Linked DNA regions of Homo sapiens. The protein of the gene in region 1 purifies or fractionates together with the protein of each later gene. This does not show direct contact. Each region holds a gene or a part of one and is shown in the gene's direction. Other genes may lie near its edges.

The links. The genes of interacting proteins can lie anywhere in the genome.
Region 2: the proteins of RPAP2 (region 1) and PFDN2 purify together in Homo sapiens (co-immunoprecipitation; 3 studies listed by BioGRID and IntAct, with this or other methods). This does not show direct contact.
Region 3: the proteins of RPAP2 (region 1) and POLR2B purify together in Homo sapiens (affinity purification with mass spectrometry; 3 studies listed by BioGRID and IntAct, with this or other methods). This does not show direct contact.
Region 4: the proteins of RPAP2 (region 1) and POLR3B purify together in Homo sapiens (affinity purification with mass spectrometry; 2 studies listed by BioGRID). This does not show direct contact.

Annotation. Positions count from the first base shown.
Region 1 is NC_000001.11:92,305,255-92,309,244, forward strand, and holds part of RPAP2 (putative RNA polymerase II subunit B1 CTD phosphatase RPAP2), read left to right. Parts: intron 1-1,933; coding exon 1,934-2,022; intron 2,023-3,990.
Region 2 is NC_000001.11:161,111,538-161,115,037, reverse strand, and holds part of PFDN2 (prefoldin subunit 2), read left to right. Parts: intron 1-3,500. UniProt on the Homo sapiens protein: Binds specifically to cytosolic chaperonin (c-CPN) and transfers target proteins to it. Binds to nascent polypeptide chain and promotes folding in an environment in which there are many competing pathways for nonnative proteins.
Region 3 is NC_000004.12:56,992,396-56,995,895, forward strand, and holds part of POLR2B (DNA-directed RNA polymerase II subunit RPB2), read left to right. Parts: intron 1-1,679; exon of another isoform or gene 1,680-1,775; intron 1,776-2,008; coding exon 2,009-2,121; intron 2,122-2,251; coding exon 2,252-2,471; intron 2,472-2,855; coding exon 2,856-3,014; intron 3,015-3,500. UniProt on the Homo sapiens protein: Catalytic core component of RNA polymerase II (Pol II), a DNA-dependent RNA polymerase which synthesizes mRNA precursors and many functional non-coding RNAs using the four ribonucleoside triphosphates as substrates.
Region 4 is NC_000012.12:106,360,748-106,364,247, forward strand, and holds part of POLR3B (DNA-directed RNA polymerase III subunit RPC2), read left to right. Parts: intron 1-3,122; coding exon 3,123-3,155; intron 3,156-3,500. UniProt on the Homo sapiens protein: Catalytic core component of RNA polymerase III (Pol III), a DNA-dependent RNA polymerase which synthesizes small non-coding RNAs using the four ribonucleoside triphosphates as substrates.

The DNA of each region.
Region 1 (3,990 bases):
ATCCCATCTCTACTAAAAATACAAAAAAATTAGCCAAACGTGATGGCGGGCGCCTGTAGTCCCAGCTACTCGGGAGGCTGAGGCAGGAGAATGGCGTGAACCCGGGAGGCGGAGCTTGCAGTGAGCCGAGATCGCACCACTGCATTCCAGCCGGGGCAACAGAGTGAGGCTCCGTCTCAAAAAAAAAAAAAAAAAAAGACAATATGGGAAGATATAAACTTGGGGTAGAGAGACTTCATAAAATAAGATGGAAAATTATAGGCCAAAGAGGAGAAACTGATAAACATTTCTATATTAAAATGTAAAACTTTTGTTCATCAGAAGTTTCAAAAAAAAAATGAAAAGAGAAGCCACAAAGCAGAATGTTAACTGACCATAGAATCATATCTAGAATATATGATCTATAAGAAAAAGACAGACAAACTAATAGAAAAATTTACACAAGGAACTTGAATGGCTAATAAACATATGAAAAGATGCTAAATATTATCAGTAATCAGAGAAATAGCAAATAAAAACACACTGAGTTTTGTTTTCACAGCCCACAAAATTGCGAATGTTAGGAAATCTTTTTGCAACTAGTGGGAATGAAAATTGGTACAGCCTTTTTGAGAAATGGCTTGGCATTTGTCTGGTGAAGTCTTTGCACATTCTCTATAATTAAGCCTTTCTATTCCTTGGTATAAACCCTAAAAAAATTCTTACACATGTACACCAGCATGTATGTATAAAAATGTTTATAGCTGGATAAACAATGTCGTATATACACACAATGGAATATTAGCCTTTAAAAAAAGGAAGGAAATTCTGACACATGCTACAAGGTGGATGAACCTTGAAGATAATATGCTAAGTGAAATAAGCCAGCACAAAAGGACAAATACTGTATGCTTTCACTTATATGAGGTACCTAGAGAAGTCAGATTAACAGAGACAGAAAGTAGAATGATCATCAAGAGAGGTGGGAATGGGAAGTTAGTGTATAGGGTTTCAGTTCTGTAAGATAAAAAGAGTTCTAAAGATGAATGGTGGTAATAGTTGCACAACAGTGTGAAGGTACTTAATACCACTGTGCTATATACTTAAAAATGCTTATGATGATAAATTTTAGATTATGTATATTTTACCACAATTGTGAACATTTTTTAATTGTAAAAAAAAGTTTATAGTAACATTGTAGTGATAGCAAAAAAATTAGAAACAACTCAATTGTCTATAAATGGTAAAGTGTAATACTCTAACAATGGAATGTAGTACACAGTGAAAATTAATAAGCTACAACTACTTGAATGAATCTTAAAAACATAATTTTAAACAAAAGAAGTGGCTAGGTACGGTGGCTCACACCTATAATTCCAGCACTTTGGGAGGCCAGGGAGAGAAGATAGAGACCAGCCTGGGCAACAAATAGAGACCCCATCTCTACAAAAAAATAAAATAGCCAGGTGTGGTGGCACGCCTGTAGTCCAAGCTACTCAGGAGGCTGAAACCAGAGGATTACTTGAGCCCAGGAGTTTGAGGCTACAGTGAGTGAGACCCTGTCCCTAAAAAAAATAAAATTTAATAAGTGAATGAAGTAAGATAAGAATGTATAACAATATTATTCCATTCAAAAAAATGTTTAAAAATAGGCAAAACTGAATATTTTTTAATAGGGATATGTACACAGGTGCTAAAACTGAAAGGAAATGAGGGAATGATTAACACCAAATTTATGGTAGTGGTTACTTCTGGGGAATGCGGAGGGTGATGCAGTTGGGAAGGGGCACATAGAGGCCTTCAAAGGTTCAGTATCTTATTTCTTACCTTGGGTGGTAGATCTGTAGGTTTCCATTTTATTCTTTGAACGATACATTTATGTTTTATACTCTCAACTGTATGTAGGTAATGTTTCATGATAAGAAAAAAACTAGATTTATAATGTTCTTTTCAGTCTTTTTGCAGCAATTTTTGTTATCAAGCATCTAAGTTTTTTGAAGCACAAATTCCCAAAACTCCAGTATGGGTTCGAGAAGAAGAGAGGTAATTTAAGTCATTGTGTATATACATTTGTTCATATATTCTAATAATTTGTTTCTGCTTTTTGAGATTAGCTGAGAGTAAGTCTAGTTTTCTGTAAAAAGTTACCATTTTATATACTTTATGGGGAAATGGTTATATTTTAAGCATAGCTATTAAGGATTTTACACTTAAAATCAGAAAATGCATACATACAAATGTTATTTGTTTGTTGTTTTAGCTTTAATTGCAAAATCAGAACTTTAACTCCAGTGTCCTGTGATGCTAGTTATGTCTGTGAATCCTGTTAATATAATAATCCTGGAGGAAGAATGTTAAATTTTTTCAGAAGTTACTGGGTCTTAGGATCCAGGTGAACTCTGCTATGAGAAAGGTTAGAAAGTTCAGGTTCATTTAATCTTTATAAAAATCAGTACACTATTTTATCAATTTAAAGACACAATTAAAAAGTAATTTTTTTTTTTGTAAAAAGAGTTTATGGGCAATGCTGGAGTTTAGCCTCTTGGGAAATGATTTAAATACTGGCAATGTTTTACTAGATGCTAAAGTCAAGAAAATTTTATTATTGAGGGTGAAATGGCATGATAATATAAAGGTAACAAGTTATCCTTATGGTAATTAAACTGTATTGCCTAGAAATTCCAATGAAATGCTTAATGAGATAATGCCCAAAATAAATTCATGTTTGAAAGAGTGTATTATAGCAACACAAGGCAGTGTTACTTGTGGTAAGGTAGGACCTATGCTAAATAAACTAATGACCTAAACATAATGAGATGCAGGTTAGCTAAAAAGCTCTGGCTCAAAAAAAAAAAAGCAAACCTTGAAGTCTTTTCTGATGCGTAAGGCGATGTAACACCACTCTCAATTCAAATAACATCAATTATGCTGACAACAGCACCTGTGATGGCAGACACCTCTGCCTGCCGATCCAATCCTGTGTGGTTTAGGATATGGAAAACTTAACACTGTGTGGCCCTTGATAATTGAGTTAAACATAATTAAGACTAAATTGTTCATCATTTCACCACCAGTCTGCCAGCTTCCTTGTTGGGAAAATAAAAGACTCTGGCATTGTTCGACATGACTGGGAAGCTAAGAGTACTTTTTTACTTATCCTTTTTCTCCTTTCTTAATATTTCTGTCACTAGAGCTGCCCAGTACTTCCCCAGTCCTCTGAGAGCAACATGTTTTATTCCCCACTGAAACCAGTGTTTCCTCAAGTTATCCTTAACTTTGCTTCCAAAGATATTTTCTCTACATCTTAAATTTAACCCTTTGTGCCACCCTCATATCTACCTCAACTGCTTCAAAACCATTTACCAAATTACCTTTCCTGCCATCTCTGTTTTCTTCAAGCATAGGTATTGGTCCTTCCTTTAGCTAATTTAAAACAAATCTTCCAGCCTGGTGTAGTGGCTCATGCCTATAATCCCAACACTTTGAGAAGCCAAGGTGGGTGGATCACTTGAGTTTAGGAATTTGAGACCAGCTTAGCCAATATGGTGATACCCTGTCTCTACTAAAAATACAAAAATTAATTGGGTATGGTGGCGGGCACCTGTAATCCCAGCTACTCAGGAGGCTGAGGCAGGAGAATCACTTGAACCTGGGAGGCGGAGGTTGCAGTGAGCCAAGATCGTGCTGCTGAACTCTAGCCTGGGCCACAGAGTGAGATTCTGTCTCAAAAATTAAATAAATAAATAAAATGAAGTAAAACAGGTCTTCCTGTAACCTTTTCCTAAAATCTCACCATCCTCTATTCAGAATGCTCACTGTTTCCCAAAACTTGAAGCCCTTTTACTTTATATTTGCAGTTCTTGAAATTCTACCTTAGCTATATACCCTTCACTACCTCACTAAAAAAGAAAGATGAAAATGTCCTTTGTGCCGGGCGTGGTGGCTTACACCTGTAATCCCAGCACTTTGGGAGGCCGAGGGGGGCAGATCACAAGGTCAAGAGATCGAGAC
Region 2 (3,500 bases), about 69 Mb from region 1:
TTTTCCATTTATTTTCAGACATTGGATAACTCTGGATAATGAGAGACTATTGTACATGAAACAGACTTTGTCTTCAAATTGCTTTACTCAGACTCATTTGAGAAAAGACAAACCAAACAATAAAGATTTATAGTGTGCTGCACAATCCCTTCATTATGGCAGCAGAGGAGAGACCCCTAACTAATCACGAGGTTGTAGGATTGTGGGGGTAGGGGCTGGATAAGGGAAGCTGTGGTATAGTAGGGTGGCTAAGAGCATTCTTATGCACTAGGGTCAGACCTAAGTTTGAATTTCATTTCTACTATTTACTATTTATATATGACCTCCCATGAGTTACATCTTGGCCTCCCCCATCTGTAGAAACATAACAATACCTACCTCATCACTGAATTTAGAGTATTAGGCAAGACAATGCATGCGAAGTGTTTTGCACAGTGATTAGAATATAGTGTGTGTTTAGTAAATGCTAGTTAGCTTTTGTTTTCTAGAGGAGAAAAATCCTTCAGCTCAATTCTAAAGGATGAGAGAAGTTAGTCAAGCAAAGAAGGAAGTGGAAGATTTTCTAGGTAGAGGGAATAAATGTGTTCCAAAACACTAAGGCGTGAAACTGCCTGGCATGTTTGGGATGCAGGTGGGACTTAATGTTTGAGGTGGATTACAGAACTTGAATATGGAGAAAAGGGGGTAAAAGAGGAATATAAGATGTCTCTCAGGTTTCTGTCTTTGGTGGATAATGGTGCCATAAGGAATGTAGGAAGACAGACAATTTTGGGGGAAATGTAAGTTTATTTTAGGATTTTGAGTTTAGGTTTCTTGTGGGACACCCAGGTTAAACATTCAGTAGACACTTTGATTTTTAAATCTTGAGATACAGTAAGAAATCTGAGTTGGAGATACAGATTTGAGAATTGAGTTTATGGATGATAAAGCCGTGGTTATGGATAAAAATGATCACTTTCCATAGTTTGTACAGAAAGTGAAAAAAGAAGTAGAACAAGAGTGGAACCACTGTTTTAGGGGAGCTAAAGAGAACCCCTCAAACTTCCCTCAGGAAACTGAGGAAGTGTGATAAGTGAGTTTTGAGGCTGTTCCTTGATTAACATTCTCTTGCCTTTGTTTATTCTGGAGAGAACACTGGGTAAAACATTACAAGATTTATCACTGCTGCAAATTTGAGCCACATATGTCCCTTACAAACAAGATGGAAGCAAATAACACATTGTGTTAGACACTTGTTTTACCTTCTGTTACTGACTGAGACAGGGTCTCATTCTGTTGCCCAGGCTGGAGTGCAGTGGTGCGATCACGGCTCACTGCAGCCTCAACCTCCCAAGGCTCAGGTGATCCTTCTACCTCAGCCTCCCAAGTTACTGGGACTACATGCGTGTGCCACCCTGCCCAGCTAATTTTTGTATTTCTTGTAGAGATGGAGTTTTGCCATGTTGCCCAGGCTGGTCTTGAACTCTTGGGCTCAAGCAGTCCACCTGCCTTGGCTTCCCAAAGTGCTAGGATTACAGGCATGAGCTGAGCCACCGCTCAGGCCTACCTTCTGTTATTCAATTACTGCCATTTGAAGTAGGTTGTGTTGTCCTCCATTTATAGGTGAGGACATTTTAATTTCAGAGGCTTTAGTTAACTTGCCCAAGGTCAGTAACTGGAAGAGCAGGATTTTTAAATGAGGGACTTAAGAATCAGGTATTTTTTTCACTTATGCCATGATTATGTTAGAGGTATTTGAGCAGAACCCTGAAGGAGTGGATGGATTTGAACAGGTAGCAGTGGGAATAGAAAGTAGGGAATATGATAAGAGGAGAGTAGTTGAATAAGGCCATAGAGGTCTTTGAGTGCATGCCAAAGAATTTATGACTTTTTAACATAAGCAGTGAGGAAGTCACAGAAGGATATATGTTATATTATTAATTGTTTAACTCTTATATAAAATAATACATTTATTGTCGGAACTGCAGAAAACAAAGGAAAAAGTTCAAACCAGGAAATAAATTGCCCATAATCCAACTATCCAGAGATAACTTTTCTTGCCATTTAGGAGTATATCCTTTGAGAGATTTTTTCCCCCCTCCTTTGTCTTTTTGTGTATATATGTGTGGATGGAAGGGGGAGCTTTTTTTTTTTTTTACATATTTTATAAAATTAGGATTATACTACAGTATGTACTGGTTTGTAATCTGTTTTTTAAGCCTAATAGTATATGTTGAACATTTTTCTATGTCATCTAAGTGTTAGGAAGATTAAATTAGCAGTGTGTAGGGTAGGTTTGGGGAGTCTAAAAATAGGATCATTTAGAAGACTATTGCAGTAATTCAGATAAGAATGTAATGAACATCTGAACTAGGGTTATGTCAGTGAGCCTAAGAGAAATTGCTAAACTAAGTGCAATACATTTGGCAGTTCATGGGATTATGGTATGTTCAAAGATGAACCTGGGTATGGTGGCAAGTGCCTGTAGTCCCAGCTACTCAGGAAGCTGAGACAGGAGGATCACTTGAGTCTGGGAGTTTGAAGCTATAGTGTGCTATAATTGTGCCTGTGAATAACCACTTTTCACCAGTCTGAGCAGCATAGGGAGACCCCATCTTTAAAAACAAAACAAAAGATGAAACTAAGGTTTCCTACCAGGAGGCCTAGAGTGATGTCAGTAGCAGAAATAGAAGAGATAAGATCACTTCAGCTTTGAACAACATGAGTTTAAGATATCCATGGGACATTTAGGTGGAGATGATCTGTAATAATAGCAGCTACTATTTATTGAAAACTTGTTATATGATAGATATTGTCCTAAGTTCTTGATGTAATTACTTAATCCTTACAACATTCTGTGAGGCAGGTATTATCTGTATTTTATTGGTGAAGAAACATCAGAAAAGAAGTAATTAATACTTATGCATTCTGTGAGACAGGTATTAATCTGTATTTTATTGGTGAAGAAACATTCAGAAAAGAAGTAACTTGTCATGGTCTGACGTTAAGCCATTTCTGTCAGGCACAAAAAAGCTCCTTCCTCTAACTTGTAAATGTGGGACTAGAATTTCTGAAAAGGCCTGGTTTTGCAGGCAAGTAGAATAAAGGCAATTGCTGGAACTATAGAAGTAGCTAAGAATGCCACTTGAAATAGTATAGGTTACCCTGATTTGATTATATGAATATATCAAATTATCACAATACCATGAAAATATGATTATGAATCAATAAAAAATAATTTCAAAAATAATGTAGGTAATGAAGAAGTGCTATGAATAGAATCTTAGATCCTGTGGCCATTGTGGGAGTGAAAGAGGAAGAACTTTCAGAAAGGAGAAAGAAGGAGGCTTGAGATAGGAAGGAGAACTGAAGGGACCTGGAAACCAAAGGGGAGTCGAAGATCTACATTGTATCGGGCACTTGACCTATTATCTCAGTTAGTTCTCATTGTTACCCTGTAGCAGTGATTCTCAACTGGCATTATCTTTTCCTAGGAGACATCTGGCAGTGTCTGGAGACAT
Region 3 (3,500 bases), on another chromosome or scaffold:
CGGAGGTTGCAGCGAGCTGAGATCACGCCACTGCACTCCAGCCTGGGCGAGAGGTCGAGACTCTGTCTCAAAAAAAAAAAAAAAAAAAAAAAAAAAAGAAAAGAAAATACTTGGTGTATTTAGGCTGGGGACCACAATGATCAGTATGTGATTTTGGCTTATCTATTTTTTTTTTTTTTTTTGAGACAGAGTCTCGCCCTGTTGGCCAGGCTGGAATGCAGTGGCGCGATCTCGGCTCACTGCAGGCTCCGCCTTCCGGGTTCACGCCATTCTCCTGCCTCAGCTTTTTGAGTTGCTGGGACTACAGGCGCCTGCCACCACGCCCGGCTATTATTTTTTTGTATTTTTAGTAGAGACAGGGTTTTGCCGTATTAGCCAGGATGGTCTCGATCTCCTGACCTCATGATCTGCCCTCCTTGGCCTCCCAAAGTGCTGGGATTACAGGGCTTCTCTATTTTTAATAGGCATTAGGAAGATAAGATGGAACCCGATTGTTGAAAGCTTTGAATGTCATTGGATGTTATGAGGAATTACTGAGAGACTGTCAAAGAATATACATAAAGCATTATTTTAGAAAAGTTACTTTGGAAAGTGATGCTTGCTTGGAATAGAAAGAGGCTAGAGGAGGCCAGATGTGGTGGCTCATGCCTGTAATCCCAGCACTTTGGGAGGCCTAGGCAGGCAGATCTCTTGAGGCCAGGAGTTTGAGACCATCCTGGCCAGCTTGGTGAAGCCCCATCTCTACCAAAAAATACAAAAATTAGCCGGGCCTGGTGGTGCGCCTGTAGTCCCAGCTACTTGGGAGGCTGAGGCAGGAGAATCACTTGAACCCAGGAGGTGGAGGCTGCAGTGAGCCGAGATCACGCCACTGCACTCCATCCTGGGTGACAGAGTGAGACCCTGTCTCAAACAAAACAAAACAAAATGAAACAAAACAAAAGAGACTGGAGGAGATAAAAATCTTAGAATAGCCTATGATTAAGATAATAATGACCTAGACTAGATGATGGCACAGATAAGGAGTAGAGGATTGGCTTCCCTTTGGTTCGTTATCACCACCGTTCTCTTTGCCCTTTATCCAGCCCAGCTTGGGAGACTTGAGTGTCAATAATTAATCATTAGTAAAACGTCTGCTTACTCCTGTTTTCTTCTCTGAGACTTGATTTAGAGAAAAGTACACTATCCATTTATCTCTAGAAAGTTGTCCTCATGGATCTTGTTTTATTAGGCAGCAAGTGAATGTTTAATTGAAAAATTTCTTTTTTTTTCTATGAACTAAGCTATATTCCAGCCAGAGTTGGAAATTCTCAGCCCTTTATATAGAATGATTAGGATATTTTGTGTGTTTTTTAAAATAAAAAAATCTTTTTCTTTTGTTAACTCTACTCCTTTGACAGATTAATTTGTATATTTAACTGAAGAGAGGTTTATTTTTTAAAATGTTCTATTGATTAGATTAGAGCATAGTTCTAGTTGTCTGGATTTGTTATCTTTGTTCTCTGGTCACTTTGTATTTTTGATGATGCTTACCAAGGAGAGGGCACAAGAAACTATGTAGATCATTAATGTAAATCCATTTTAACTGTTTCATATAAACTCAGAGCACATGATGTGTACAGTCTTTACTTTTAGTATATTAAGTCTCTTTTTGTCTTCTGCCTTAAGAAAGCAATTAGCAGATCCTTCTGTAGTTGATAAGTGTGTGATGATTGGGTGTGAGATGTGCCTTCCTTAAACCTTGTTACAAACCTTGTTAGCACATTACCTGTCTAATGTGAAAAAAAATTTTTAAGAAAAGAGGAAAAAAGAAAGTGATTTGGTTTAAAACTTAACGTCTATGCAATATGGATATTGACTTTGGGAAGTCCCCATTTCAGTAAAATGGATTAATTTTGCCAGTTTGTAGAGTTGCTTGTACTTAAAATGTTAATGTCAATTAAAATGGAATCACTAAAACTTTTATGGAAAAAATTATTTACCCTTTTCATGTTTTTTTGTTTAATTTCAGCCACGATATTTGCTGAAGTTTGAACAAATTTATCTTTCCAAGCCTACCCATTGGGAAAGAGATGGTGCTCCTTCACCAATGATGCCCAATGAAGCTAGATTAAGGAATCTCACGTAAGAAAGAATTTTTCCTTGTCAGCAGTAGATACTGAAATAGAATTTTGAAAATGTAATTTTAACCACTTGAGGATTTGTTTTAACAGATACCCTATTGCTTAACTGTGATCTACTTTTATTTTCAAAGGTATTCTGCTCCGCTTTATGTTGATATAACAAAAACAGTCATTAAAGAAGGTGAAGAACAACTTCAGACTCAGCATCAGAAAACTTTTATAGGAAAAATTCCAATTATGTTGCGGTCAACTTACTGCCTTTTGAATGGCTTGACAGATCGTGATCTTTGTGAGTTAAATGAATGCCCTTTGGATCCTGGTGGCTATTTCATTATTAATGGATCAGAAAAGGTATAGTAACATTATTTTAAAAAATTACAAAATGGTAGTTAAAATTTAGTTTAAAGTTGAAATGAAAAAAAAAAAAAAAAGAAAGAAAGATTTTCCTGCAGGATAACCTGGCACTGACAGTTGACTTGTTTAGGGTATGACAGCTAAACTTATATAAACCAAAGCTTTATTTAGCTGTATATAACATGCACTGGGAATTTGGTCAGTTTTGGAGTTTATGTATTTCTATGAAGCATTTATGCAAAATGGAGTTTGTAAAGTTGAAGAATTAAATATTTCAGTGAGCCTATATGGTCAGATTAAATTAAGATGCAGATTTTACTCTCTTTTCTCTTCAGTGATGTTTTGGATTTTATGGCTGTAACTTTCTTATTGTCCAAATAGGTTCTGATTGCCCAAGAGAAAATGGCAACAAACACAGTTTATGTGTTTGCCAAAAAGGATTCTAAATATGCCTACACAGGAGAGTGTAGATCATGTCTTGAGAATTCTTCCCGACCCACCAGTACTATATGGGTTAGCATGCTGGCAAGAGGAGGACAGGTATGGACTGGATATGATGCTATTTGGGTTTATTCCTTTGTGCTTTGTTTTAAAATTTACTAGACTGCCTTCTTTGTCCATAGAAGCTTTTCTGGAGCATATTGTTGTTATATATCGTATTGTTTACCTATCGCTGTGTAACAAATTACTCCTCTAGCAACATTTATCATCTCACGGCTTCTGTGAGTCAGGAATCTGGGTGTAGCTTAGCTGGGTCTTTTGGCCAAGCAACTCTCACAAGGCTGCAATCAGATGTTTCCCTGGGCTGCCGTAATCTCAAGAGTCATTCCCATGGTTGTCTGCAGGATTTAGTTCTTCATTGGCTGTTGGACTGAGTCCCAGGTCTTTGCTCGCTGTTGGCTGGAAGCCTTTCTTTGTTCCTTGCCATGTGGGCCTCTGCGTATAGCAGCTGACAGCAGCATAGCAGCTTGCTTCTTCAGAGAGAGTAAGCAAAAAGAGCCATAGAGAGTACGAGCAAGGTGGAAA
Region 4 (3,500 bases), on another chromosome or scaffold:
TGTTACTGAGTACTTACCTGGTGGTGTATTATTCACAGGGTTTATACAAGTTCAAAAAATGTGTTTTCTGCCTCCCAGTGTGTTATAGGCTTATAGAGAGAGACGTGTAAGCAAGTGGAATAACATGCAATAGGTACTGTGATACAAGTAGGCGAGGGGTATTTTGGTATTACAAATGGTAGCTAGGATGTGATGCCTGAACTGAGTTTGCCAGATGTGGATGAAGTGTGGTGGTGCGGAAGCATTCCAGATAGAAGGAGGAGGCGTAGGCACAAGTACAGCTGCAAGCACAGCATATGATGTATGCCTCGCTGTGGAGTTAAGACATGGTGAAGAGGGTGGGGAGGCACTGAAGAGTTGTAGAGAATGAGGTGCTCAGCTGTGCACATGAGGACATGTACACTGGCTTTAGTGCTGAGCATTGAAAGGGACGAGCAGGAAGAGTAGTAAGGAAGTATTGCCGCAGACCAGCTGAAAGATTATGAGGGCCTCAACTGGCACAGGAGCAGAGGATAAATGCGAGGAAGGTTAAAAGGAGGTCGACTCAGTAGAATTTTTGTTTTCCTGTTGATTAAGAAGAGTCAGAAAGTTAGGACTCCCGGGTATCTAATTTGGGATTGACTGGGATAAATGGTGATATTCATTGAGATTGAGAATGGAGCTGGGGGAAGATTTAATTTTGGACATACTGATCTTAAGTAGCCTCTGAGGCTGTAAGGTATCACTGCCCAGTCAATAGTTGGAGGGGACAGGCCCATACCCAGTAGCTTACTGCAACAGTGATATTCACTCACTCATTTATTTATTCAGTATTTATTGGAGTCTTTTATGTGCCAGGCACTGTGGTAACAGGATAGACAGGGTCACTGCCCTTGAAAGAGCCCACATTTGGAACTGGGGGGCTGTGGGATGAGATGGGGGAAGCTAAACAACACTTTCAAACAGTGTTGTTTGAAATCCTCCATTCCCAGCCCTACTTGAGAAAAGACATCGCCAGGGATAGAACTTTGAAGAACACCAAAATTTGCAGGGTGGCAGAGAAAAAGAGGTGTGACAAGGCCCGGCCGGAGGAAGGAAAGACATAAGAGAATGATACCACAGAGTGTTATAAGACAGTGATCGGCATGGCCAAATACTGTGGAAAGGGAATGTGAGGGGGCATCAAGGGAGGTCTTTTGAAGTAGCAGCCTTGGTGACCTCTGTCGAGCTCTTTCACTGGCAGGTAGGTCAGAGTCCTGACTATAACGGAATGAAGGAGTGGGAAGTGAGGAACAGAGAAGCTAAATATGGAGTAATTTGGGAGAGATCGTAAGCTGAAGGGCAGGGAAGAAAGTAGTCAGAGGAGCTGCTGAGTCAAGAAAGTTTTAAATTTTTTTTTTAATGGGAGGATTTGAATACTCGTTTTAAATAGAACAGGTTGAATATCAAGGACTGAACTGGGGCAAGGTTTCCAGTCTTCAGGAGAAGGTTGGCAGGATTGTGTCTGTGGCGGAAGGGTTAGCCTTAGACCAAGGAATGGATGGTCCTTCCTTTGAAGTGGGAGGAAACGAGTATAAGAAGGGGTGTAGAGAGAGGAATTTGAAGATGTGGGAGTATTAGCTCATAGGGCTGCCGTAACAAAGTAACCACAAACTAGGTGGCTTAAACAACAGAAATTTGTTTTCTCATAGTTCTGGAAGTTAGAAGTCTGAGATCAGGGTGACAACAGAGCTGGCTCCTTCTGAGGGCTATGAGAGAGGATCTGCTCTGGGCCGTCCCCTACTACAGGTGTTTGCTGGCAATCTTTGGCATCCCTTGGCTTGCAGAAGCTTCACTGAGACCTCTACCTTCATCTTCACATGGCATTGTCCCTGTGTGCATCTCTATGTCCAATTTCTCCTTTTTTATAAGGACACCAGTTGTATTGGATTAGGGCTCACCTTAATGACTCATTTTACTTAATCACCTTTGTCAAGACCCCATCTTCAAAAACAGTCACATTCTGAGATACTGGGGATTAGGACTTTAGCATATGAATTTTGAGAGGGACACAATTCAACCTATATCATTGTCATTCTTCTATTTTTAAATTTAGGTGTAATTTATATAATAAAATGTATGGATACTAGATATTCAGTTACATTGGTTTTATAGTTATGTGCTCTATGTGGACATTGCATCACCCCAGAAAGTTCCCTTATGACCCTTTTCAGTCTATCCCCCCAAGCACCTTTTGATTTCCGTCATCATAGATTAGCTTTGCCTGCCTCTCTTGTTTTTGACTATACCCAGGGGTCTGCCACCTTCCCTGGCCACTCCTCGGTCTCCTTTGCTGGAGCTGCCTCCTGCTCCTCCTCTCTGATTGTTGGATTATTCTTGGTTGGTCTCACTTTGTGGAACTCTTCTCCATCTACATTCCATAGGTGATCTCATCCATCACGTGCCTTTAATTGCCATCCACTTGTTAATCTCTTCCTAGTTTATATCTCCAGGCCACTCCATTCCCGAATTCAAGACTCATTTGTTGCCTCCTTGACATTTCCACCTGAATGTCTAATGGAGATCTCAAGCTTAACACACCCAAACCAAATTTCTAGTAGCCCCTCCACACCTAAACCTGCTATTCCTACAATGTTCCTCGCCTCCATCAATTTTAACTCTATCCCTCTAGTTGCTCAGGCAATGTAGGAAGCAATCACCATATGTGTCATCCTTCTGTAGCCCTGAGATGAGCTCTGACCAGACAGTAGTTGAGAGAGAATGGGAGGGAGAAAGAACTCCCTTTGGGTCTTGAGACCCAGCTCTCCCACCAGACTCTCTGAGCCTTATTTTCCTTTTCTCAAACTGGCAAACTTCACTTAGGAAGTGTCATGAGAATAAAATAAAGGATTGAAAAGTGCTTAAAATCTTGAGTCATCAGGAAGAGATTAAGTTATATTCTGTTTAGGAAACCTGTAGTGTATGTATGTATGTGTATACATATTTATATGCATATGCACACATGTGATTTCCATAAAAATGTTTAAAAATTATTCTTTTTGTTTTGATTTACTTTCCTTTGCTTATTTTGGAACATTAAAATAACTTATGAAAGTACTGTTGCTGGTACAGAGTTCTGATATTCTTCTTGTTTTGGCTCACAGGAAAAATGGAGGCTGCTTCCAGCATTTTTAAAGGTAATTGTTTCACATTTAATAATAATTGGTTATTTTTCAGATGAAAAAGTCAAGAAATAAGCCATTTTTTAAAGATTAAATTTTTGTCATCAACATTTTTTGATTTTGTATAGCTGTGTTTGGAAATACAAGGAATTATAAGGTAAAATCCCTGCCTGAAAGGTGCTGGTTTGGAGAGTGGTAGTCTAATTTTAGAGAGAAGTAGTAGTACATGCACAGTAGCATGGCACATGATTAAAAACCAAAGTGCTATCAGCAAAAGAGCAATGGTCAGAGAGGGCCACCCAAATGAAGTGAGACATAAACCACATCTTAAGAGAAGAAGGTTTAAGCCTGAAAGCTGGG